Linked DNA regions of Homo sapiens. The protein of the gene in region 6 interacts with the protein of the main gene of each other region in a pairwise test. Each region holds a gene or a part of one and is shown on either strand. Other genes may lie near its edges.

What was found.
Region 1: the proteins of RASAL3 (region 6) and PRKAA2 interact in binary tests that used the Homo sapiens proteins (3 or more experiments, as listed by UniProt).
Region 2: the proteins of RASAL3 (region 6) and CCDC102B interact in binary tests that used the Homo sapiens proteins (3 or more experiments, as listed by UniProt).
Region 3: the proteins of RASAL3 (region 6) and MTUS2 interact in binary tests that used the Homo sapiens proteins (3 or more experiments, as listed by UniProt).
Region 4: the proteins of RASAL3 (region 6) and KHDRBS3 interact in binary tests that used the Homo sapiens proteins (3 or more experiments, as listed by UniProt).
Region 5: the proteins of RASAL3 (region 6) and RABGEF1 interact in binary tests that used the Homo sapiens proteins (3 or more experiments, as listed by UniProt).
Region 7: the proteins of RASAL3 (region 6) and NTAQ1 interact in binary tests that used the Homo sapiens proteins (3 or more experiments, as listed by UniProt).

The regions. Positions count from the first base shown.
Region 1 is NC_000001.11:56,693,814-56,697,313, forward strand, and holds part of PRKAA2 (5'-AMP-activated protein kinase catalytic subunit alpha-2), read left to right. Parts: coding exon 1-39; intron 40-2,121; coding exon 2,122-2,346; intron 2,347-3,500. UniProt on the Homo sapiens protein: Catalytic subunit of AMP-activated protein kinase (AMPK), an energy sensor protein kinase that plays a key role in regulating cellular energy metabolism.
Region 2 is NC_000018.10:68,804,580-68,808,079, forward strand, and holds part of CCDC102B (coiled-coil domain-containing protein 102B), read left to right. Parts: intron 1-3,500. UniProt on the Homo sapiens protein: During interphase, forms fibers at the proximal ends of centrioles to maintain centrosome cohesion. During mitosis, dissociates from the centrosome following phosphorylation to allow centrosome separation. Contributes to CROCC/rootletin filament formation.
Region 3 is NC_000013.11:29,029,839-29,033,338, reverse strand, and holds part of MTUS2 (microtubule-associated tumor suppressor candidate 2), read right to left. Parts: intron 1-3,500. UniProt on the Homo sapiens protein: Binds microtubules. Together with MAPRE1 may target the microtubule depolymerase KIF2C to the plus-end of microtubules. May regulate the dynamics of microtubules at their growing distal tip.
Region 4 is NC_000008.11:135,582,956-135,586,455, reverse strand, and holds part of KHDRBS3 (KH domain-containing, RNA-binding, signal transduction-associated protein 3), read right to left. Parts: intron 1-3,500. UniProt on the Homo sapiens protein: RNA-binding protein that plays a role in the regulation of alternative splicing and influences mRNA splice site selection and exon inclusion. Binds preferentially to the 5'-[AU]UAAA-3' motif in vitro.
Region 5 is NC_000007.14:66,771,733-66,775,232, forward strand, and holds part of RABGEF1 (rab5 GDP/GTP exchange factor), read left to right. Parts: intron 1-150; coding exon of another isoform or gene 151-167; coding exon 168-346; intron 347-1,958; coding exon of another isoform or gene 1,959-2,095; intron 2,096-3,494; coding exon 3,495-3,500. UniProt on the Homo sapiens protein: Rab effector protein acting as linker between gamma-adaptin, RAB4A or RAB5A. Involved in endocytic membrane fusion and membrane trafficking of recycling endosomes. Stimulates nucleotide exchange on RAB5A. Can act as a ubiquitin ligase.
Region 6 is NC_000019.10:15,454,545-15,458,044, reverse strand, and holds part of RASAL3 (RAS protein activator like-3), read left to right. Parts: intron 1-210; coding exon 211-753; intron 754-1,398; coding exon 1,399-1,543; intron 1,544-1,796; coding exon 1,797-1,941; coding exon of another isoform or gene 1,942-1,945; exon of another isoform or gene 1,946-2,136; coding exon of another isoform or gene 2,137-2,196; exon of another isoform or gene 2,197-2,407; intron 2,408-3,113; coding exon of another isoform or gene 3,114-3,151; coding exon 3,152-3,388; intron 3,389-3,482; coding exon 3,483-3,500. UniProt on the Homo sapiens protein: Functions as a Ras GTPase-activating protein. Plays an important role in the expansion and functions of natural killer T (NKT) cells in the liver by negatively regulating RAS activity and the down-stream ERK signaling pathway.
Region 7 is NC_000008.11:123,433,774-123,437,273, forward strand, and holds part of NTAQ1 (protein N-terminal glutamine amidohydrolase), read left to right. Parts: intron 1-1,668; exon of another isoform or gene 1,669-1,739; coding exon of another isoform or gene 1,740-1,769; intron 1,770-2,679; coding exon 2,680-2,828; intron 2,829-3,436; coding exon 3,437-3,500. UniProt on the Homo sapiens protein: Mediates the side-chain deamidation of N-terminal glutamine residues to glutamate, an important step in N-end rule pathway of protein degradation.

The DNA.
Region 1 (3,500 bases), on a different chromosome or scaffold from region 6:
ATCTCCAAATTATGCAGCACCTGAAGTCATCTCAGGCAGGTAATAATCAGTGAAGCATAAGCTTTTTGTAATCTTGTGTTCATTTTGATAACATTTAATTACAATATATTCTCTATGGAAGGTAAGATTTTAACATGGTAGAAATGGATTATTCATTTATTTTTCCACTGTTAAAGGGATAATGGTTATATCAAAAAATGTTAAACATTTCATTTAGATGTCATTATAAATATACTTACGAAGTTTTCCCCATTAGAAAAATAACTGAAGTAGATCCTGATTTAACATATCTTTCATTTTACAAAAGTGCAGATAAGAGAGTAAGAATTTGCTAAATTTAAGCTAGTGTCATTTATTTATTAGATATAGTTCTTTAATAATACCTTGCATATTTTCCAAAGTATATAGAGCATTGTTTTATATTTTGTGTTTGGAAAAATGAGATTTTGGGGGAAAATATTGTTTCATGAAATTACACAAGTAGAGATTGTGTAGTTACTCATAACTTATTCATTGGTACATTATAAAAATGTTTATACAGATTGCAGTGGTAAACTCAAGTCTTTCTACAGTGATCAACGTGTGATTTTAAAAGTTAACAGAATCCTATAAGAGAAAATATGGTTAAAGTATTATTGCAAATAGCAGATAAAGAATTATCTTAGTCCATTTGGGCTGCTATAAGAAAGATACAATAAAGGTGATAGCTTATAAACAACAGAAATGTATTTCTCACAGTTCTGAAGTCTGGGAAGTCCAAGATCAAGATTTGGTATCTGGTGAGGGTCTGCTTCCTAATAGACTACTGTATGCTCACTGTAACTTCACATGGTGAAAGGGACAAGGGATCTCTCTGGGGTCGCTCTTATAAGGGCACTAATCCCATTCATGAGAACTCTGCACTAGTGACCTAATCACCCCCCTTAAGTCCCCACCTCCTAATACTATCTCCTTGGGGGTTAGGATTTCAACACATGAATTTTGAGAGGACATAAGCATTCAGTCCATTGCAAGGAGTTTGAACAATACAGCAAATGATGTAAACAATCACCATTTTTTATATAAACAGATTATATTCTTTTCATTAGAATAGTAAAGATTTACTTTGTTACCTCAGACCCAGGTTTGAGTATGGTAATATGCTATCATGGGAATTGTAATGCTGTAGAAACGTAAGAGAAAAAAGGAATAATACTATAAGCATAGGTTATCTGGATCAAAGATGATTTTAGTCATATGAGTTAGGAAGTGATGAGAATAGAAATAGTAAGTACTCAGGATAATGTGATACAGGATAAATACTGTCTACACAGTACTAATTAAGTACTTTAATGTTTTAAATATCTCTCTCTCTATATATATGATATATTATATATATATATATATATATTTTTTGTTTTGAGATAGAGTCTCGCTCTGTCACCTAGGCTAGAGTGCAGTGGCACAATCTCAGCTCACTGTACCACCTCCTGGGCTCAGATGATCCTCCCACCTCAGCCTTCTGAGTAGCTGGGACTAAGATGTGCACCACCATCCCTGGCTATTTTTTGTATTTTTAGTAGAAACAGCGTTTCACCATGTTGCCCAGGCTGGCCTCAAACTCGTAGCCTCAAGCAATCCGCCCGCCTCAGCCTCCCAAAGTACTAGGATTACAGGTGTGAGCTACCGTGACCAGCCTTAATATTCTTTAAAGGTGTGCCAGGGGTAGAAATTCTATTATATGTATACATTATATATATGTTTTCTTTCTTGTAATAGTTCTTTGGGAAAAAGATTTAACCTATACACCATAGTATTTTTTCAAGTTTGTGGTCATCTACTTTGTTTCCCTCAAAAATCAACCACAGAAAGTATTATATGTTTTAATTCGTATGTTTCAGTTAAATGAATTTGTGACAAATAAAAATACCCTATTCACTTGGCAGGCTTGAATAGTAGTTGGCTAGCCCCATTACTCTCTTTGGGGAACAAACACTGAATATTGGGGAGCAGCCATGGACTTCATTAAAGACCTTGGAAATGAATATGTACTGAATGTAGACTACCTATATATAGAAGTAGGGTACATAGAGAAAAAGTGATTCTTGCATTTCAGGTTTGTGTTGTCATCTTTTTTCTTAGATTGTATGCAGGTCCTGAAGTTGATATCTGGAGCTGTGGTGTTATCTTGTATGCTCTTCTTTGTGGCACCCTCCCATTTGATGATGAGCATGTACCTACGTTATTTAAGAAGATCCGAGGGGGTGTCTTTTATATCCCAGAATATCTCAATCGTTCTGTCGCCACTCTCCTGATGCATATGCTGCAGGTTGACCCACTGAAACGAGCAACTATCAAAGACATAAGGTGATTTTTCTTTTTGTTTCTGTTCTGCATATTTTCTCATAGGAATAATAATGTTAATTAAATGATTCTCCCAAAGTCTCATTTCCTGCCCTCACCACCTCACCCCAGTACTCATGCTTCAGCCACATTGAACTTGTCCTTGTTTCTCAAACCTAACATAGATTTTATGCCTTCATGTCTTTGTTTATATTATTCACTTTGCCTTGATGTCTTTTCTTGTTTCTTTTTTGACCTGATAGACTTCCATTCATCCATTAAAGTTCATGCCACCCCTTTTGTGATTTCCACACGTGCTTCCATTTCTGTTTTATCAACATTTTGTTCATGCTTTTATTATTTAATCCTCATCCTGTATCTAGTTATTTCTCAGTGTGTCTTTTTTCTCTCTTAAATTATGATATCAGGGTAGAGAGTGTGTCTTATTCATCTTTGACTACACAATGCTAAAAGGCCTGGAAAGATGGTATGCTTAGAAAGTGTCTGAAGAAATTTCAAATGGAGAAATAGGGTGAGATTTTGTATTTTACATATGGTTAAAGACATAAAGCATAAAAAGTTTTGCTAAGTTTTTGAATTCAATAGCTGCTAGTCAGCTTACTGTGAAGGCTTTTTTGTCACTTGAGAAAGTTTGGAAAGTGCCATTGCTGATGCGCCTATGAATATGACCTTTGTATATCCCACACCTGTGTATAGTAGCAAGATGATTCACTGCATCCTGCCTATGACTTATCAAGGCATGTTTCTTAGAGGTTTTTTCTTCTTACCTAAGATTTCATCCGTGTTTGTTTACAAACATGTTCTTTTGACATCTTTCCAGAACTCTTTCCCCTTTTCATCATTAGCCAGCAAAGAATTTTTTTTTTTTTTTAAGGCAGGGTCTCACTCTGTCGCCCAGGCTGGAGTGCAGTGGTGTGATCACAGCTCACTGTAGGTAGCCTCAACCTCCCAAGCTGAGGTGTTCCTCCCACCCCAGGCTCCTGAGTAGCTGGGACTATAGGCACAAGCCACCACACCCAGCTAATTTTTTTTAATTTTTTTATTTTTAGTAGAAATGGAGTTTTGCCATGTTGCCCAGGCTGGTCTTGAACTTCTGGGCTCAAGCAATCCACCCACCTTGCCCTCCCAAAGTGCTGGGATTACAAGTGTGAGTCGTT
Region 2 (3,500 bases), on a different chromosome or scaffold from region 6:
AACCATGAGAGAGGATGCCCTCAGAAGCCAAGAAAGGGAATGATGAAATGGACAATCACATACAGGGCTTCTGGTTGGCCAAGTAAAACAGGAATTTCAGGCCTGGAATTGACCATTAGATTTGCAATGTAGAAGTCACTGATTTCCTGTTTTTGTGGCAAACTAGAGTTGAAAATGATACTGCGACTTCAAGAGAAAATGAGATAAATGAAAGTGTCTTTAAAATAATTTTTATTTTAGAAAATGCCAAAGATATGGAATGGCTGCTGGGTTGGGATCAAAATCTTTTTTTTTTTTTTTATGTTGAGGGTATTATAGCATGTGCATTTGCTAATGGGAATAATCTAATCTAGAGAGAGGTACAAACTAGTTAAACAGGAGAGGAGTATATTTGAGGAGGCCATGTCCTGGAGCGGATTAGAGGAAATTAGATAGAGCATACAAATGGGAAGTTTGGTGTTAAGAACGTGGAGTAATTCTCTATAAAAACAGACAGAATAACATATGGGTATCCATTAGACACATAGATATGATGGAACCAGTGGATGGCAGTTGTCTTATAATTACATATCTTTTGTAAGTGAAATAGAAAAACCCCCGCAATCTCAACAGATAAGGCAGAGCTGAATAAGATATGAAAATTTTGAAGATAGCTAATGTATGGGATTATTCAGTAGAATGTTTGTGATTTAATCAGGGAAAAATATTAATTTCCCTATGGTAGAGTTGGCTTGGCTACATTAAAGCCCATATGAGGTTCAGAGTCAAGAAACTGAAGTGAGACCAGATAGCAATGGGTGTGTTTTCTCAAAGCCTGATCAAGAGTGTAGGTGCAGACATGGAGCAGGAAGACAGCTGTGATTCACTGACATTAGAGTTTCTAAGCAAGTAGGGTCAAGAGAATGCCAAGCTTGCTCAGAGCAATTTGTTAAAACTGGAGCACAGAATAGGGAGGAGAGAGTGGATGTGAAGCCGATGAGGAAGAGAGAAAAAACAATACAGTCCATTGACAGGAGGCCATAGCTAGGTCAAAAAAGAGAGTTATGGGGACAATAGTAAAGGGTAATCAGAGAGGTGCTTATCATTGATATGGAAAGAAATGCTAGTATGGTAATGGGATCTAGGTGCATAACCAGCCAGTGAGTGGGTGAGGTCATATTATTGGAATTAATAGGAACTGAGAGGTGAGGATGTTGTAACGACACTATATATGAAATACTTTGGACATGAAAATTTTTCTTGTCCCTGAAAACATATTCAACTTCTCCTAACCTATTAACATAATTGGTTTCATTATATAAATGTTAATACCCATTCCCATGCCAAGACTCTACAGTGTTGTCAGTGATCTCATTTACTTTTCTCTCTGCTTATGTAACATTTTGATCAGTCCTACAGACTGTATTAAAGAGCAATCTTCAGCCAGTGATCAAAGCAAGACAAAGAAGCCTTCAAATACAGCAGATTACAAGCCCATAATTTTTTTATGTGTTTATCATTTTGCCAAAATTTTGGATAAAAATAAAATTATATGTATTAATAATGTTAAGAACACATGAATTAATATTATTTTTAGGTTTTTATTTACAACTGCTGTTTTAACAATGACATACATTTTTAAAATTAATAATTATTTTTTCCCATGTTGTCTAAACAGCTTTAAATATATTTTAATGGGATGTCTCAAAGCTTAGATAAGAATGCTCAGCAAACATATCCAATTTTTAAAATGATATTCATTTTATTTTTGTATGATTATTGCAACATCACCTCTTCTGTATTATGTGGCCATGTGGAAGAGAATGAGAATGTCACATTCACTTACCTTTGAATAGCAGGCTACTTTGGTATGCATTTTTATTATCAGTAGAATATGTTTTTCAAGCATATATTTGCAAGTAATATTATTAGTAATTATCTTAATTTCCTGTATTTAGGAAACCTCTAGGTGTTAGAGACAGCAATATTGCCAAAACATTCTGAACATGTTTGAAAAAAATCAGAATGCAGTTTTCTATTTCTGTAAAATTCTCTGTGGAAAAAGAGAAGCTCTTAAAGTCTATTGGATGCTCTACAGCTATTTTGTCCAATAGAAATATAATTCAAGCAACATTTGCAATTTAAAGTAGCTACATTTAAAAAGTTAAAAAATGAACATGTGAAATTAATTTTAATAATATTTTTGATTTAATCCAATCTTTCAAAAATATCACTTCAAAATGTAATTAGTATGAAGTTATTAATGAGATAGTTTACATTTTTACGTTTCATGCTGTGTTTAATTAGTACTCACCGAACATCACAATTCAGGCGACCCTCATTTCAAGCGTTCCCTAACTACATCTGATAGGTGACTACCATTTAAGACAGCACAGGTTTAATACTCCAGAATATAAACGGTTCAAAAATATCTTCATAGCAACCATAGAATACATTTCAGGCATTGTATTTATCTCCTTGTTGAAAGGGGGAACACATATGAGTTTGAACGACCTTATCAAGGAAGAGAATTTACCTCACATTTTCTGAACCAGTGTTCTCTGGGTTCTACTATAGCTCTCATGTTATCATATTTACATACTTATGTTATTTTGATACTGAGAAGTATGTTAAAGATGGTGGCCTCTAGAAACAACTGGGACCAATATATTCTCTGCTTGCTATAATTTAAGAAAATTTACTAATTTAAGAAAATTTAACAGGTGTGAAAATCAGGCAATGATAAAAATGATAAAACTCAATTTAGGAGTCCACACAATTCTTAGTACTTTTTCTCTTTTTTTATAAATTAAATGCAATGTATAGATCTGGGAAATCATGAGATATTTAAGAAAAACAAGGAAAAAATAGAGTTTTTGAGGAAGAATTAAGATATGACGTTACAGGAATTACTTGGGAAAGAGTTGAAGACAATAATTACATGATTGGGAGGCAAAATAAAAACCAAGCAAGCTTTGAGAAATGTAAGAGTTTAATCTGGTCTTCCACTCTTTGCAGCTTTCCTTGCACATGGCGTCCATTTTCTGTTTTAGGGACTGGAAAGACAGATCTTTTGAGAAATACAAACACTGAGTATTCACTTCCTGTTATTTTGACATTTTTAATCCAATTCCTTTACTTGTCTTTACTAAGACAAACAACTATGCAAAAATGAAAGGAAACAAATGAAAACGGATCCCAGATCAATCAGCAGTTGTGTTAAGGATTCTACTTTCTAGTTAAATTTTTTATTTTCTTTATTGCTACCTTCTCCTATGTCAAAGGATGAAAACCAGAAATATAAACACTTAAAAAAAAAGATGATTGCAGAGTTGGTGGCCTCTATGTCTGAATAAATTACTAATTTATTTTGGCTAACATGGAGAAAATATGAGCAGGGATGAACGTTTCACTAGGATTTGAGCAACTAATCTTCGAATCAAAAGCTAACTTTTTTTTCTTAAGATTCCACGTCTTTTCCTTCTCAAGATTACAAACTCATCTATAAGTTTCATATTATA
Region 3 (3,500 bases), on a different chromosome or scaffold from region 6:
GTATTTTCAGATCTGTACTATGTGTTTACCTAGTTAAAAACCTGAGCCTGAGTTATCTCCTCTGGTCGTCTGCTCGAGTGAGGCGATGCTCCCAGGAAGGTTTGAGCAAGTTTCACCAGAATGGAAGTTCTAGGGCACAATCTCATCAACCGCTGACTTCATAGCACCAAAAACAATGTCTAGCACATAGCTAAAGTCAATAAATATTTATTGAAGAATCATGTTTCCATTTTTTCCTAAGTTTAATAATAACATAACGTTACTGTCACTTTCTCCTGTAGCTAGCAGTTTGGCCTAGAATACAACCTGTGGGCAGTACCTTTTATATATGCAATTCTGTACTCACTAAGTCTGTTCATATTATCAGTGTTTTATTAATATTAAACAGGAAAAAAAGAGAGAGAACTAAATAAACTATTCCTTTAAGTTACAATAAAAAATAGTGCTAAGGGCCATGCATGAAAAGATACATCTGTTAATTAACTCTGTTCTAAATCACAGCACATTTTATGTGTCAAACTTATATCTCAGGAATCATAAGCATTTAACAGTATTCTTTAATGGGGGCTATAAAAGCTTTGATCCAAGCTGTTGAAGAGATAAACCCTTAAATTGATACTCATTTAATGTTGAAATAGATACAAAGTCCTCCTTCAAATTGACATTGTAGAAACAAAAGATTAGGCCTTTAAAGTTTTATCATAATCACACTGTAAAATATGCATGACTGTTATAGTAGATAGTCCTTGGCTATAGCAAATTATATTCCTATGAAAGAACATTCTACATCTGCACTCTGATAAATTTTTTACCATTCTCTACTTACTCTCACTATCAATCTCTGGTTTTTCTCATATATACCCTTTTTTAATTTTAGTTTCTAAATTTTGGGTCCCATTGCACATTGCTTTGAGCAGGTGCTCTTATGAAGAAATTAATATCATTTCCAAACTACATCTGTCAGGTTTTAGGATTGCAATATGCTGATCTTAGTAGTTACTCAGTGCCTTGAAACTGAGTTGTTTTTAGGGATTAAAATTCACCACATTCTCTCTCAACAATGATCTTAAGGATTTCAGTAACTTCAATGCCTGTCATTTTGTTGGGTAATTTGTTTCTGGTGAGATCGCAAATTCTTTAAAAGGGGGAAAACTGCGCCTTTGATGTCTAGTCTGTGCATTTTTAATTAAACAAGGGAATCTACAGAAAGCTTCATACTCTTTTCCTTCATCTTTACTGACAGAATACAGCAGGTGATGCTGCACAGTCATAAAACAACGTTTGGAAACCCCAAACGTTGCTGTTCCCCTCCCTCCATCCCAATGGAGGGTTTTTAGAGAACTCACTTTGAAAGCAAACAAAAGAACCCTATGATTTCAAACAAACTCGTTAAGTCAAGGCATATGAACAAATACATTCTTACCAGGCTGTCCCTCTTCCTATTTGCCCTGCACTGTCCTCAATGGGATAGTGTGCCGTGGAGACAGAGGGTACAGGTGAAGGCTTTGTTAACAAGCCACTGGGATAGTGGTGGGGGAAGGGTGTCTGGGATGGTTAATTTTATGTGTCAACTTGGTGGGGTTGCAATACCCAGATATTTGGTCAAGCATTCTAGATGCTGCCATGAAAGTATTTCTTATATTAGATTAACATTTAAATCAGCAGACCTTGAATAAAGCAGCAGACCCTTCAGCATGTAGGTGAGTCTCATCTAATCAGTTGCAGGGTTTAATAAAAACAGACTGACTCCTCCTAAAGAAAAGGGGATTCTGCTAGTAGATCACCTTCAGACCCAAGCTGCAGCACCAACTCTACCCTAAGTCTCCAGGCTGCTGTCCTGCCCTGCAGATTTTTGACTTGCCAGCCTCTACAATCATGAGCCAATTTCTTAAAATCAATCAGTCAATCAATCTCTCTCTATATATATATATAGAGATTATGTGATGTACCCTCTCTATATATACATCTATATCTGTCTCTACATATGAGATATATATATTGAAACATATATAGATAATATATATTGAGAGACATAAGTATAGATGAATATAGACCTGTGAACACACACCACACACACACACACACACACACACACACACACCTATTAGTTCTATTTGTCTGGCAAACCCCAATCGATGCAGTGCCCCCCAGAGATGAGTGGCAGCAGACAGTGAGGAAGGAGAGCAGCCCTGGATCACACCTCTGTACACTGCACGCACATCGCCTCACTCCATCCTCTCAGCCAAGCCCCTTTCTTCCCACCTCCCTTTACCAAAAATAAAAAGGGCTCCCAAGTTGTTGGAGGGAGGGAGTGTCCCTGAGACCTCAGGAGAGCCAGTGGCAGAGGGCACCTGTTTAGGTAAACATATTTAATACCTGGACATGACTAGATCCCAGATGATCTTGGAAGCCACTTCTGGAAGTTTTAAATGCCTGTGCTGTTCCTGCCAATTGGGAAAAGAGTTCCTCTCTCAGAAGAGTGCTTACTCTTGATTTTTCCACTTCTACCCATGCTATGTAACCAGCAGGGATCTGTCGATAAGGATGGAAGAGTCTGAAGCTGGTTTGAGTTTTTATTTTTAAGAGGTTCTCATTTTATTTAAAAAAAAATCTGGCTTCTATAACTGAAAAATACTTCCATTGCAACACATTATCAAAAATGTGTTCTTTTCCTAGAGACCAGACTGCAGCCACCCCATGATGAGCTTGGGGCACACTGGCAGAAGAAGTCGGCTGTTTTTTCTCCCTGCACTGAGCTCAAACACAAGAGGGGGACTCGCTGGGTTACATCATGTCATAGCTGTAGCAGGTGGCCAAGGACCAGCCTGTTCCCCACTTTTGAGTAAAGAAGGTTACCACAGAAATGAGCCCAGCGCAACCTGAGAAGAGGCCTGGGTCTCGTTCTGATGATGGCAGAAAATGGTCCCCAGATACAGGGAGGGAAACTGACATTTCAAACGAACTTGTAAAGTCGAGGCCCAAAAACAAATAAATTCTTTGAAGAAGACTTTGGGATGCTCGAGGTGCGAGGCCATGATGCTCTCTCCACACCAGTGGGGTCTCTCTGAACCCCTCAGAACCGCCAAAGCCACACAATGTCCATACAATCCCATTTCCTTGAGTCTTGACGTGGTGCCTAGATAATGAAGTAGAGAAAATAGTTTGGGGAAAACTATGCATGTAATATATAAACTATTCTTGGAGGAAGCAGAACAACACAGAAAAGAAATATACACGAAAATATAGAAGGGCACAAAGAAAGAATTACAGACAATGTGGGGTTTGGGCCTACATATCCAAATCAATTTCCCTCATGAGTTTGTTTTTATAGAGAAAAATCTAGGCTCTGGCTATGGTTTGGATATGGTTGGCTTGTCTGTGCCAACTCTTATGTTGAAATGTGATCTCCAATGTTGGAGGTGGGGTCTAGTGGGAGGTGTGTGGGCCATGGGGGCAGATGCCTCATGAATGGCTTGGTGCCCTCCTTTTGGTAATGAGCA
Region 4 (3,500 bases), on a different chromosome or scaffold from region 6:
TTCAGTGTCCTATAATCCCTTTTATGGCATTTCTGATGAAGGGAACATGCAGCATCTGTTACACTTTCTCCAAAGATGAAGAGATTTTATTTATAACCTCGGCTAGTGGAACACTGTTTTTTTTTTTGGTTTTGTTTTTTAAAGCACTGGTTTTTCAAGACAGAACATAGGCCTTGAACTTTGAATCCTGAATCTGCTCCTTCTTTACCAGTCCTGTGACTTTGGGCAAGGCACTTAACTTCCCTGACCTTAAATTCTCATTTGTACAGTAGAGATCATAGTAGGTGGTTATAAGGAAAACGTGACATATATCAAAGTGCCTTGTGGAGAGCAGTTTCTCATCAAATATTACATCCTTCTTTAAAGCCCCTTTTTATACTGAGATGAGATTTACAGTAGGTTTTTCTGTTTCCTTCAGGAGCTAACAAAATTAATCTTATTCATTTGTAACCTGTGACTACCCGTCCAGTGCTAGAAGACAACAGTAACTTAGGAAAGTTATTTTCTCAAATACTATCATATTTCTTCCCATCACATGCTTTTACCAGGAACTTAGAAAAAATCAATGGTAATCTTCATCTGAACAATGTTATCAAGTCTCTGTATAGGGTTGGTTCAGTCCAACGAACATTTACTAAGTGCTTACAATGTGCCAAAAACTGAGCTAGTAGCCAGAGATTAACCTAGAGATAAAGAATTTTTCCTTAGAAGTTAATAATCTTTTGAAAACTGGACATATTATGATTGTTCTACATAGCTATATACTAAATACTATGTTACATAAAAATTGCTATGTGAATAAAACTGAAAAATCACACAGAAGGCATCTGTGGTGGGTTCTCTGCAGGAGACAATTTTTAAAAACCATCTTGTGACCATTCATTCATTCATTCAGTAAATATTTACTAAAGACCTACTATGTGCCAGACATTATATACTAGTTATTGGGAATAAAAAGGTGAAGTGTGGTGGGTGGGAGGAAGGGGAGGCAGGGGGAGAGTGCCTACCCTCATGGAATTTAGAATCTAATTTAAGATGTTCTAGTTCCATGTAATAATTTTAGTATATTCAAAGATGGCCAACTTTCCCATTTGATGCATGAATGAATAACCATTTATTTGTGTTACAAGCTCCTTGGTTTTCTAAGTTGGGTATCTTATAATACACCCACCCTATCTAAAATCCAAGAAACAAAGAAACGATTTTTCTTTTTTTTTTTTTTTTTTTGAGACGGAGTCTCGCTCTGTCACCCAGGCTGGGGTGCAGTGGGGCGATCACAGCTCACTGCAACCTCCACCTGCCGGGTTCAAGCAATTCTCCCACCTCAGCCTCCTAAGTAGGTGGGTTTACAGGTGCGCACCACTACACCCGGCTAATTTTTGTATTTTTTTTTTTTGGTAGAGATGAGGTTTCACCATGTTGGCCAGGCTGGTCTTGAACTCCTGACCTCAAGTGATGTGCCCACCTTGGCCTCTGAAAATGCTAGGATTACAAGCGTGAGCATCGTGCCGAGCCCAACATAAAAAAATTTTTTAAGAAGAATTTACTTCCCATTCCCCCTACCATGCTGCAAAACTAAGCGTGATGGGTGAGTAATCTTTAGGTTTTCAAACAGTTGAGACCAATGGCCAAGGTCTGAAGTTATGCCAGAGGTTGCAAGCTGTATTAGAAAAGTTGGAAGTAGAAAACTGGGTCAGTGGAGGAAGATGAGGTCAAACGGGTATCTGCAAGGCAGTGCTACTGATGGCAAGCCACTGTAAGCAAGCTGAAGGGCTTTATCTACTCCTTATACCAAGTACCAGCAAAGTTTGTTATATACAGTGAAGCTTTTACTATACTGAAAAAGCCACTGAAGCTTTTACTATAACTGTGCCAAGGCAGCTCACAAAATGCTAAGCTAAATGAGGAAAATCTTTTCTCTTGACTAGTAATCTTAAAAGGCACTGCCAGGAATAATAGATGCTAAATTAAGTGGGAAAGCTATAACGTTTGTAATCTGAACCCTTCATGATGATAATTCAACTCGGGGAAGGAGGTGCACTCATGATGGTATTTCTTTTCCTTTGGTGTCCCACTATACCACCCAAAGCACACCTGGAAAGCACACAGCTGTTTTATGTATGCAAGACTTGTAATTGTATGAAGCTGATAAAATTGCAAATACTGCATTCCAGCCAAATTACAACACTGGCGGATATGACCGTCAGTTATTTGAAGGCAACGCTACCATGTGACAGAAAGAGCACTGGCTCTGTGTTGAAATCACAGCTGCAGTAACAGTCAGTGCCTGGAAGAGTGCCAGGCATGAGTGAGTGTGGGAATCAAACAATGAAGGTTGACTTTTTCCTTTAGAGCTCTTAAACCTTTGTCTGGTTCTGGAAAAACGCAGGTAATCTTCTACAGGGCCATTATCCCATTATCTTTGGTAGCAGATGGAAAAGGGAGTAAATTAATCCTACAGAATACTTCTCAATTCAATTGTTTTAATGCCTTTCCTATCATTTACAAAAATAAAAAATAAATAAAACAATCAAAAGTACAAGCAGCAAACCCAAATGTCTTGAATGTCTCTTGCTTTTGCTTTTCCTCCTTTGGACTTTAACCTTTCAAGAATTTTTCAGTTTTATTAATCTATATAATTTATTTCCAGACTCTAATAATTAGAGTATACATGCTGAGACAGACAACATGTGTGTCTGGCTCACACGGTAGAAATCCAATCTTTATTGAATGGAAAGATGAATACATGTAATGAAGGCAATAGTTCTTTCTGAAATAAGTGGATTATGAAGCCCAAAAAGTTAAATATCTTGCCCGATATTAAAATTTATGGTAAAATGGGGTATAGGATCCAGGTTTCCCACACAACCTGCCTGGCAATTTCTACTACATCATCCAACCACATCTGTATTAAATCTAAACCTAAGAAATCAATGTAAGCCAAAGTGGAAATGAACAGACACTGGGCCTACCTAAAAGGAATTTAAGATTTACTCTCCTTTAGAGTCCCTGATACTTTCAGGAGACTCAGCATTTATGGAAGAGCTGAGGCATAATTATTATTGTCATCTGGTAAGATTATTAGGAAGTAGGAACACATTTAACTGTAACGAATTCAAAGAGAGGAAACACATCCTTCCTCAGCTGAATAACAAACTTGTAAAACTATTACGGGATTTGTTAAAATATAATTCAGTGGGCTCCCAGTATGCACTCTCTCCCAAGTATAAAGAGATAAAAGCTATCCATTCCTGCCCTTCCAGAGGTTCACAAGCTAGGTGGGAGAGAGAAATGTAAGAACTGTAGTAATGCTCAACAGGTTAGCTATTACCACCTCTAAATTTCCCTAGCAATGATTGACCTACGTGTAGAAGGACACAAGGAGACAGTCAAATGAAACATAAGAACACCATTCTAGGCTGAGGAGGCAGTATAAGCAAAGGTCTGGAAGACTAAGATGACACAGAATGTTCAGGGAATTACAAAAACTTAAATATGTC
Region 5 (3,500 bases), on a different chromosome or scaffold from region 6:
CCTCCTCTTTCTCCCTCCCTCCTTCATTCCCTCCATCCCTCTCTTAACAGCTTGAAGATAATGGAATCACTCACTTTTTGTTCATAATTGGTAAGATTTTATTTAGTAGAATGATAATTCATTTTCAACAGCACTTTCTTGTTTGTTCAGTGGTTAGCAGGAAGAAGATGAGCCTTAAGTCTGAACGCCGAGGAATTCATGTGGATCAATCGGATCTCCTGTGCAAGAAAGGATGTGGTTACTACGGCAACCCTGCCTGGCAGGGTTTCTGCTCCAAGTGCTGGAGGGAAGAGTACCACAAAGCCAGGCAGAAGCAGATTCAGGAGGACTGGGAGCTGGCGGAGCGGTAAAAGGACTTAACTAGGGGCGGTTGAACAGTGACGTGACTGGATACATAGTTCTGTCACCGTCTAAATACATTTTTTCACTTCTGCTTTGAGCTATCAGCAAGTCAGTTTAATATTAAGGAAAAGGATGTTTTCCTCTCTTCTTCTCAGTCAGCTTTTAATGAACAGCTTTCAGTAGTTTCTTCATTTTGTGTTTGTCTTCTGATTATTTTCTTTGGGTTGTGTTAGTTTTAGTTCTCAAATGTAGACAATAAGCTCCTTGGAGTGGAAGAATGGAGATAGGCATATTTCCTGGTGAAGATTAAATGAGCTAATAAATTTGACGTACCCACTGCAGGGCTTGGAAATGGCACTCATCAAGCATTATTTCCCTCATTCTTTTAATATATATTTAGCATGGCATCTAGCTCAGTGATAAAACACAGTAGTAGAAATCTGTTGACTTGTATACATAGTCATTGCATTGTAGAAATTTAACTTATATTTAAAAATTAGGTTAGCATTTGGTATTATCCGGAAATATAATGATGTTAAAAATTAAACGATGGGCCGGGCGCAGTGGCTCACGCCTGTAATCCTAGCACTTTGGGAGGGTGAGGCAGGAGGATCATCTGAGGTCAGGAGTTCGAGACCAGCCTGACCAACATGGTGAAACCCCCTCTCTACTAAAAATATTAAAAAAGTTAGCCGGGCATGGTGGTACGCATTTGTTATCCCAGCTACTTGGGAGACTGAGGCAGGAGAATTGCTTGAACCCAGGTATCGGAGGTTGCAGTGAGCTGAGATCATGCCACTGCACTCCAGCTTGGGAGACAGAGTGAGACTCTGTCTCAAAAAAAAATAAATAAATAAATAAATAAATGATGGGATGGCTAGTGAGCATAGGAACTAATAAAATGCCATGAATAATGTTAATTCTTTGCCAGAGCATTCTAGAATTCTAAAACTGCTTCAACAGAAGAAAGTCAAATGGAATTCTGCCAACTCCTCTAGCTAGTTGTTTGTTTTTTTTTTTTCATCCAGTCAGCCAATATTTGTTGAGTGACTCCTTTGCTGTCATTTGTAGTGAACTCAGAGAATTAGAAATTACACATTGCTTTCAGTGACTGTGTTCAATCAAAGAGAGAAAATTTTAGCCGAGAACATGAATGATCTCCTCAGGGTTTCCACTGCATGCCTGATGCTGTCAGTAGCAGATCCTGTTTCAAAAACAGAGTAGAGGCCACTAGGCACAAACTCCCTCAGCTTCCTCCCCTCACCACATAAAAATGTCCTAGTACCTTTATATTAACTTCTTGTCTGTCCCAGAGAAAGAGGGGTCCCGATTCCACCCTCAGACTTAGCACCTCCACCTGTGATTTTTGTTTCTATTTCTTACTGCTTTTAATTGTGACCCTGCTAAATCTCTCGGAAAGCTTGTAAAAGCAGTGATTGCTGGACCTTACCCACAGAGTCTCTGATTTTAGTGGCTTGGGAGTAAGACTAGAGAATTTGCATTTCTGACAAGTTGCCTGGTGATGCTGCGCTGCTGTCTGGGGAATCATACTTGGAAAATCATTGTCTTTTAGATAGTGCTTGTGCTTTTTGTTTGTTTGTTTGTTTTTGAGACAGGGTCTTGCTCTGTTACCCTGGCTGGAGTGCAATGGTGCAATTTCAACTTACTGCAACCTCTGCTTCCTGGGCTCAAGTGATCCTCCTGCTTCAGCCTCCCAAGTAGCTAGGACTACAGAAGTATGCCACCATGCCCAGCTAAGTTTTGTATTTTATGTAGAGACAGGGTTTCACCATGTTGCCCAGGCTGGTCTCAAATTCCTGAGCTCAAGTGATCCGGCCGCCTTGGCCTCCCAGTGTGCTGGGATTACAGGCGTGAGCCACTGCACCTGGCCTGTGTTTGGGAATTAATACAGGTGGTTCACATGCAGCTAATCCAAAGCCAAATTTATTGCTTTTATTTATTATTCTCCGCATTCTGAACATTTTCCTCCTAACCCTTCTCCTGAGTCAATTAATGGCATCACTACTTACCAAGTTAGCTAAAAAACCTTGGTTTCATTCTTGATTTCTCTTTTATCTCCCATGCTAGCTACAACTTGACCAAGTTCTATTTCTTCCAACTCAGAAAAGTCTTTTGAATTTTACCTTTTGTACTCCTATTTTCCAGGTGCTTATTTTCTTTTACTTAAACCTTTATAATATACTCTTACTTCTTGTTCCTGTCTCTAGTTTCTCTACCCTTCAAGTTGTTCACACAGCTACCTGCATGATCTTTCTAAAGTACAGATCTGACAGCGATAACTCCTTGGATTTACAGTCTTTCTTGCTTCCCTACCACATGATGAAATCCAGAATAGTGGGCTCAGCAATCAAGATTCCCTACCCTCTGGAGCCTTCCTGTATATCCAGCATCACAGTTCATCACACGCCCAGTGCTCTGGCTACATTCAGCTTGTTGTGAAGCAAACCACAGGCTTGCACATTTGTAGTTCCTTCTTTCTGGAATGTCCTTTCACTTAGAATCCTATTCAGCCTTATTAGTCAGGTGTGGTGGTGTGCGCCTGTAGTCCCAATAACTTGGGAGGCTGAGGGATGAGAATTGCTTGAACTCGGGAGGCAGAGGTTGTAGTGAGCTGATACCATGCTATTACACTCCAGCCTGGGCGATGGAGTGACACTCTGTCTCAAAAACAACCAAAAAAAGGATCCTATTTATCCTTTAAGACCTCACCCAAACATCACCGTTGTAAAGCCTCGTCAGACTCCCCCAGCAGATTGAGTTGTTCTTTCCTGTGTTCTCACAGCACTCAACTTTTACTCTCTGATGTAGCAGCTGTCCCATTCTGTAGCAGTTGTTTACTTACCTTTTTGTCTGTTCCAGCCTTGAGCTTGTTAGGGAAAAGGATTAGACTTGATTTCTTTCATGTAACCCTAGAGCAGTAGCTGAATGAGTATGAGAAGACCCCATTTGAAATCTGTAGTGCATGAAGAGCCGTCCATCCTGTAGCAATGTGAGACCTCAGACTGATTTGGCATATTTAGTCTCTAGGTCTAAAATCTTTAGATCCTCCTGAATTAATGGAGTAATAACCTTCACATACAGAGAAACCTTGGAGAATATCTAGGTCATTCTAATCCTCTCTTGAATTGCAGACTCCA
Region 6 (3,500 bases):
CCCCCAACTCTCCCGGAGAGCCCAGAAAAGCTAGAAGACTTCCGCGTAACCGCCTCCGGACTCCCGTGGCTCCACTTCTTTCCCCAAAGGCCCAGCAATCTCCCTAGGGACCCGACGCAACAGGTTTGAGGCTCCACGCTTCACTTGCGGTGCCTTCTTTGGGGTGCCAACAAACCAAAACGCTTCCCCCCATCCCACTCCCATCTGCAGGACAACGTGGAGCGGGAAGAGACATGGCTGAGCGTGTGGGTGCACGAAGCGAAGGGGCTTCCCCGAGCAGCGGCGGGGGCACCCGGCGTGCGCGCCGAGCTGTGGCTGGATGGCGCGCTGCTGGCACGCACGGCGCCTCGGGCCGGCCCAGGCCAGCTCTTCTGGGCCGAGCGCTTCCACTTCGAGGCGCTGCCACCGGCACGTCGCCTGTCGCTGCGGCTGCGCGGCTTGGGCCCGGGAAGCGCGGTGCTGGGCCGCGTGGCCCTGGCGCTGGAGGAGCTGGACGCCCCACGCGCGCCTGCCGCCGGTCTGGAGCGCTGGTTCCCGCTGCTCGGGGCGCCGGCGGGCGCAGCGCTGCGGGCGCGGATTCGGGCGCGTCGCCTGCGCGTGCTGCCGTCCGAGCGCTACAAGGAGCTGGCGGAGTTCCTCACCTTCCACTATGCGCGCCTCTGCGGGGCCCTGGAGCCCGCGCTGCCTGCGCAGGCCAAGGAGGAGCTGGCGGCAGCCATGGTGCGCGTGCTGCGGGCCACCGGCCGGGCGCAGGTGCGGCACCGCGACAGCGCGGACCGGGGCTACCAGGGGTAGACCGATAACGCGCTTCGGGCAGGAGTTGGGGCGCAGGACCTGAGTTGCACCTGTAATGGGGGAGACACCTTGAAGGGGTGTGAGGGGCGTGGTCCAAGTGTCACCTGTAAGCGGCGGGGCACCTAGAAGGGCGGGGCACCTAGAAGGGCGGGGCCTGAACATCACCCGTAAGGGGCGGGGCACCTTGAAGGGCGGGACCTGAGCGTCAGCTGTGAGGGGCTGGGGCTGAGCTGCACCTGTAAGGGGCGGGGCACCTTGAAGGACTGGGCCTGAGCTTCAGCTGTGAGGGGCGGGGCCTAATTATCACCCATAAGGGGCGGGACACCTTGAAGAGCGGAGCCTAAGCTTCAGCTGCGACAGGGGCCTGAGCATCACGCGTGAGGGGCGGGGCCCAGGTTGCACCTCAGCGCTGAAAGGCTTAAATTTCTGCTGTGAGGGTTAGAGGTTCCGGCCTCGGTTATGAGCCCCAGCAGTAAGGACTGGGCCTAAGCATCAGCTACAAGGGGCGGGGCCTGTGCCTCTGGTGTGAGGGACCAGCCAAGGATCCGAATTCCCTTGGACTCTGTCTGCATCTGGTGCAACCTGACCTCCTGCCCTTCCTAGGCGCTGGTGACTGACCTGGGCACTGCGGAGCTGGCGCGCTGTGGAGGCCGTGAGGCGCTGCTGTTCCGGGAAAACACATTGGCCACCAAGGCTATCGATGAGTACATGAAGCTCGTGGCACAGGATTACCTCCAGGAGACCCTGGGTGAGCTGGGGGAGAGTCCATGTCAGCGGCCTGCTGGTGAGCTAGGGGACCTGGGTGAAGTTCTAAGAGTCCTTGAGCAACCTGGATTCTGGTAGTGAGTGGTGTTTTGGGGGTGCTAGGATCCTGGGGACAATTGGGAGCTCCCCAAGATGTTGGGTGCCTCCGGAATAACCTGAAGACAAGGTTGGAGGATGGGTGTGGCAGGTTTTGGTGGTCATGGCCCCAGCCCCTATCTGGCTGTGCTGGGCTGCAGGACAGGTTGTGCGGCGTCTCTGTGCTTCTACTGAGGACTGTGAAGTGGACCCCAGCAAATGTCCAGCCTCGGAGCTGCCAGAGCACCAGGCCAGACTTCGGAACAGCTGCGAGGAGGTCTTCGAAACCATTATCCATTCCTACGAGTGAGAATCAGGGCCCCAGCAGCTTAGCCCACCCCTGCTTACCATGCTAGCCCCGACCTCCAGTTTAGGGTGGCCAGATAAAATACAGGAGACACTCAGTTAAATTTGATGCAATAATTGGGACCATGCTTATACTAAAAAATTACTCATTTGAACCAGGCATGGTGACTCACGCCCGTAATCCCAATGCTTTAGGAGGCCGAGACAAGAGGATTGCTTGAGCCCAGGAGTTCAAGGCCAGTCTGGGCAACATAGCAAGACTCCATCTCTCCAAAAAGCTTTTTAAAAATGAGCTAGGCATGGTGGCACACACCTGTATTCCCAGCCGAGGCTGGAGGATCGCTTGAGCGCAGGATTCAAGGCTGCAGTGAGCTATGATCATGCCACAGCACCCCAGCCTGGTTGACAGAGACCCTGTCCCAAATAAAAGTAAAAATATAAATAAAAATCACTCCGTTATCTGAAATTCATGTTTAACTGGATGTCCTGAAGTTTCGTTTGCTGCATCTGGCAACCCTATCACCATGCAACCCTATCACCACTGACCCCAAGTAACCTGAGACCCAATTCCTTGTCCTGTAACCACAGTTGATTCCATATCCCCAATTTCATGCCACTGGCTCCAGTTAACATAGGACCTCAATCCTATGACCAGATGATGCCCCAAGTCCATGATCCCTGGCTTTAAGTGACCCTCCACCTCAAATCCCATGCAACTGATCACAGGAGACCTGGGATTCCAATCCCTTGACCTCTGACCCTAGGTTAACCTGCATACCTAATCCCTGACTTCAATCAAGTGACTTCTGACCCTAGGTGACCTCCAGAGCCCCAATCCTACTTTATATCTTGTACTCTGGCCCACCAGTCTCATGTCTAATTATAAGTACATCCAAGCTCATAACCTCTGTCTTCATGTGACCCTGTATCCCCAACTATAAGAGTATTATCCCCAGCGATTGCCATAGCTACACCATAAGCCATGGCCCCATGCTGATTCATAACCCCAAGCATTGTTATCTCAGATATTCCCAATCCTAGAGCCCAGACCCCAGGTTCAGTGAGAAGGAAGCCTGCATGGGCTTCATGAATAGCTCTCTGGAGGATCATGGACCAATCATGCAGTGCTTCTGGGACTCCCAACCTTATGACTTTAACCTTTATGCCCATAGCCTCCCCGTCTGACCATTCATTGCCTCTTCTGCACCAGCTGGTTCCCTGCGGAGCTGGGCATCGTGTTCTCAAGCTGGCGAGAAGCATGTAAAGAACGTGGCTCTGAGGTGCTGGGCCCCCGACTGGTGTGCGCCTCCCTCTTCCTGCGGCTCCTGTGCCCTGCCATCCTGGCACCCAGCCTCTTTGGTTTGGCACCAGACCATCCAGCACCCGGCCCAGCCCGCACCCTCACACTGATTGCCAAGGTCATCCAGAACCTCGCCAACCGTGCCCCGTAGGTGCTGGGAAGCTAGGGGTGGGGGGACCATGCTGGGAGTGTGGGGGTGGCAGGTGCCTGACCTGACCCACCCAGCCTGGCCCTGATCCAGGTTCGGTGAGAAGGAGGC
Region 7 (3,500 bases), on a different chromosome or scaffold from region 6:
CATTTACACACTAATGCTTCTAGCAGCACTATGAGGTAGACCAAGCTTGTCTAACCTGCAGCCTATGGGCTGCATGTGGCCCAAGACAGCTTTAAATGCAGCCCAACACAAATTTGTAAACTTTCTTAAAACATTATGAAATTTTTTTGTGATTTTTTTTTTTTTTAGCTTATCAGCAATCGTTAGTGTTAGTGTATTTTATGTGTGGCCCAAGACAATTCTTCTTCCAGTGTGGCCCAGGGAAGCCAAAAGATTGGACACCCTGGAGTTAGATACTCCAGTTATCTCCATTTTATAAAAGAGCAGAGTGAGGTTGCCGAGGGGAGGGGCTGAGATTGGAACCAGGCGCTTACCTGCTCCTGCCTGCATTGCTCTCCTGCCTGCATTGCTCTCCTGCCTCTGATGTTCTCTGTTCTCCACAATATCCTGCAGCAGTTTACCTGGTTCCCATTCACTTCTCTGGGAACTTCTTGAGGGTGAGAACTTATCTTTTTCATCTTTGCATCTGCAGTTCAGCAGCACAGTCTTTCACATAGAATAGATAATGTGTGGTTCAAAAAAACTGATATGGGACTGGGCACAGTGGCTCACACCCATAATCCCAGCACTTTGGGAGGCAGAGGCAGGGAGATCACTTGAGGCCAGGAGTTCGAGACCAGCCTGGTCAACATGGTGAAACCCCATCTCTACTAAAAATACAAAAATTAGCTGGGTGTGGTGGCGCGCCTGTAATCCCAGCTACTCGGGAGGCTGAGGTGGGAAAATCACTCGAACCCCGGAGGTGGAGGTTGCAGTGAGCTGGGATTGTGCCACTGTGCTCCAGCCTGGGTGACAGAGAGAGACTCTGTCTCAAAACAACAACAACAACAAACCTGTAATATGAATTAGAAGATGTTAAGAGAGAAACAGAATTTGGATAAGGCGGAGATTCTGGCAGGGGGTGGGAGAAGATAAAAAATTGATTCGTGGGAAGAAAGCCTTTAGCTGGAGCTTGTGTGGTAGAAAGAGGTAGAGAAGGTTGCTGCAGATGGAGGGGAATGACATGAGCAGACCCATTGGGAGGCAGTGGTGGACTGTTTGGGGGCGTGGAGGATAGGATGTATCTGGGGAAGTCCAGAGAATAGGCATTCATTTTTGAATCTTTCTGTTTTGCTAAGACAGACTTAGAGCCAAAGGCAGCACTCAGGCTTTTAAAGGCACAGCATCCCTAGTCTTAAGTATTGTTCTTACCTCAGGATTTATACAGGGCTCAAGTAGAATGATATTTGAGAAAGAAAGTGCCTTTTAAACTCTAAGATATTGTAGAAATATAAGTTGGTATTACTAATGTTGCTAGGTTGCTTTGATTTCACAGTGCTGTTCTCTATGAGAGCGTTTTTCTTTGGAAGAACTCAGAGCACCACATTGCTCATGTCCCTTGATCACCTCCCTGAAATCCCTTTCAGCTCATCGCTGGTGTTGGGCAGTACCTTGAGTCTGAGAGTGAGGGTGAGAATTAACATCCACACTGTGACAGAGCTGTGTGGGAAAAGCTGTCTTTTTCTTTCTCCCTTAGTGGCTACAGATGAAAGCTTGGCTAACTTCTTTTTTTAAAAAATAGTTTTTCCTTTCTTTTAATTGCAAAAGTGGTTCCAAACTAGAAATTAAAGTCCTCCTTCTCCTCTCCAGGCTGACCCCCAGAAGCCTCCTTTGTTACTAGTTTGGAGCAGATCCTTGCAGACGTTTTCCTCTGCATTCACATGCATGCAAATGTACTTCTGAATGCGCACGTATGTCTTTATATACAGATAGCTTTTAACAAATAGCAGGTGGGGCCGGCACTGTGGCTCACACCTGTAATTCCAGGACTTTGGGAGGCTGAGGCGGGGGGATCACTTGAGGCCAGAAGTTGGAGACCAGCCTGGCCAACATGGTGAAACACCATCTCTACTAAAAATACAAAAATTAGCTGGGCGTGGTGGCGGGTGTCTGTAGTCCCAGCTACTCAGGAGGCTGAGGCAGGAGAATCGCTTGAACCCAGGAGGCGGAGGTTGCAGTGAGCTGAGATTATGCCACTGCACGCCAGCCTGGGTGATAGAGCAAGACTCTGTCTCAATTAAAAAAAATATGTGGGGCCAGGCACCGTGGCTCACACCTGTAATCCTAGCACTTTTGGAGACTGAGGCGGGTGGATCGCCTGAGGTCAGGGGTTCAAGACCAGCCTTGCCAGCATGATGAAACCCTATCTCTACTAAAAATACAAAAAATTAGCTGGGCATCGTGGTGCGCGCTTGTAATCCCAGCTACTCGGGAGGCTGAGGCAAGAGAATTGCTTGAACCCGGCAGGTGGAGGTTGCAGTGAGCTGAGATCATGCCACTGCACTCCAACCTGGGTGACGAGAGTAAGACTCCATCTCAAAAAAAAAAAAAAAAAAAAAGTTTCCTAGAGGTAAAATTGCAGTTTCAGAGGATGTGCATTTAATGACTATGAACATTTCCATTATTTAACCATTTCCCTATCTGTGGACATTTAGTCTGTTTTCATGTTTTCAGGGTGTTGTGTTTGCTTTATTCTATTTTGCTATTATAAGGAGGGCTGTAGCAGTCCTATATCCTTTTTAGTGATAAGGTATGTGTCTGAATACTGGGATTTCATCATTATGAAGTAACTTGGTTAACTTCAGCAACTTTTACTTTTAGGATTACCATGTTGTTTTGCTTCATGTTTCAAGTGGAGGACAGAACTTCATTTATGATCTCGATACTGTCTTGCCATTTCCCTGCCTCTTTGACACTTATGTAGAAGATGCCTTTAAGTCTGATGATGACATTCACCCACAGTTTAGGAGGTGAGGACATTCAAGATGGATTTACTTATTTTCTGAAGTAAGAATTTGACGATTCCACAGAGGTTCTTTTTTTTTTTGACAATTGTTTTGTAAAGATCTCGTCTGACATCACCATTGAGTTGATGTTTAAGAATGATGTATTTGCAACACAGGAGATTCAAAATGTTTTAAAGCTTTAAAAGTTATCTATCATATGAAAGGTTGTCATTCTTTTAAAATTTTGTGTGATGAGATCTCAGACATTTAATTTCAAGCGGGTTGGGGATTTTTCTTATATTCTTTTTGTTTTTGTGGGGATACCTCGTGCTGTCACCATTGAGAGGGCTGTGAGGGCAGCATCAGAAAATCATGCCCATTGCCCTTGATACACAAATCGAGTAAATCGAGGCAACCAGATATATTTTTGTGCCTTTGCCTTTCTGTTTCGGGGTTTGGTTGATCATTTCCTATGCTTCTCTAATAGGTAGTAAAGTTGCCTGTATTACTAACCATACAGAAATGCATGAGTAGTTTTGTGCATGTCATAGGAAATGAGTCGATATAAAAATGGAGTTAGAATTTCAAACATGACATCTCCCTAATGTGAGTGTATATTGATTTTTCTGCAGGAAATTTAGAGTGATCCGTGCAGATTCATATTTGAAGAACTTTGCTTCTGACCGATCTCACATG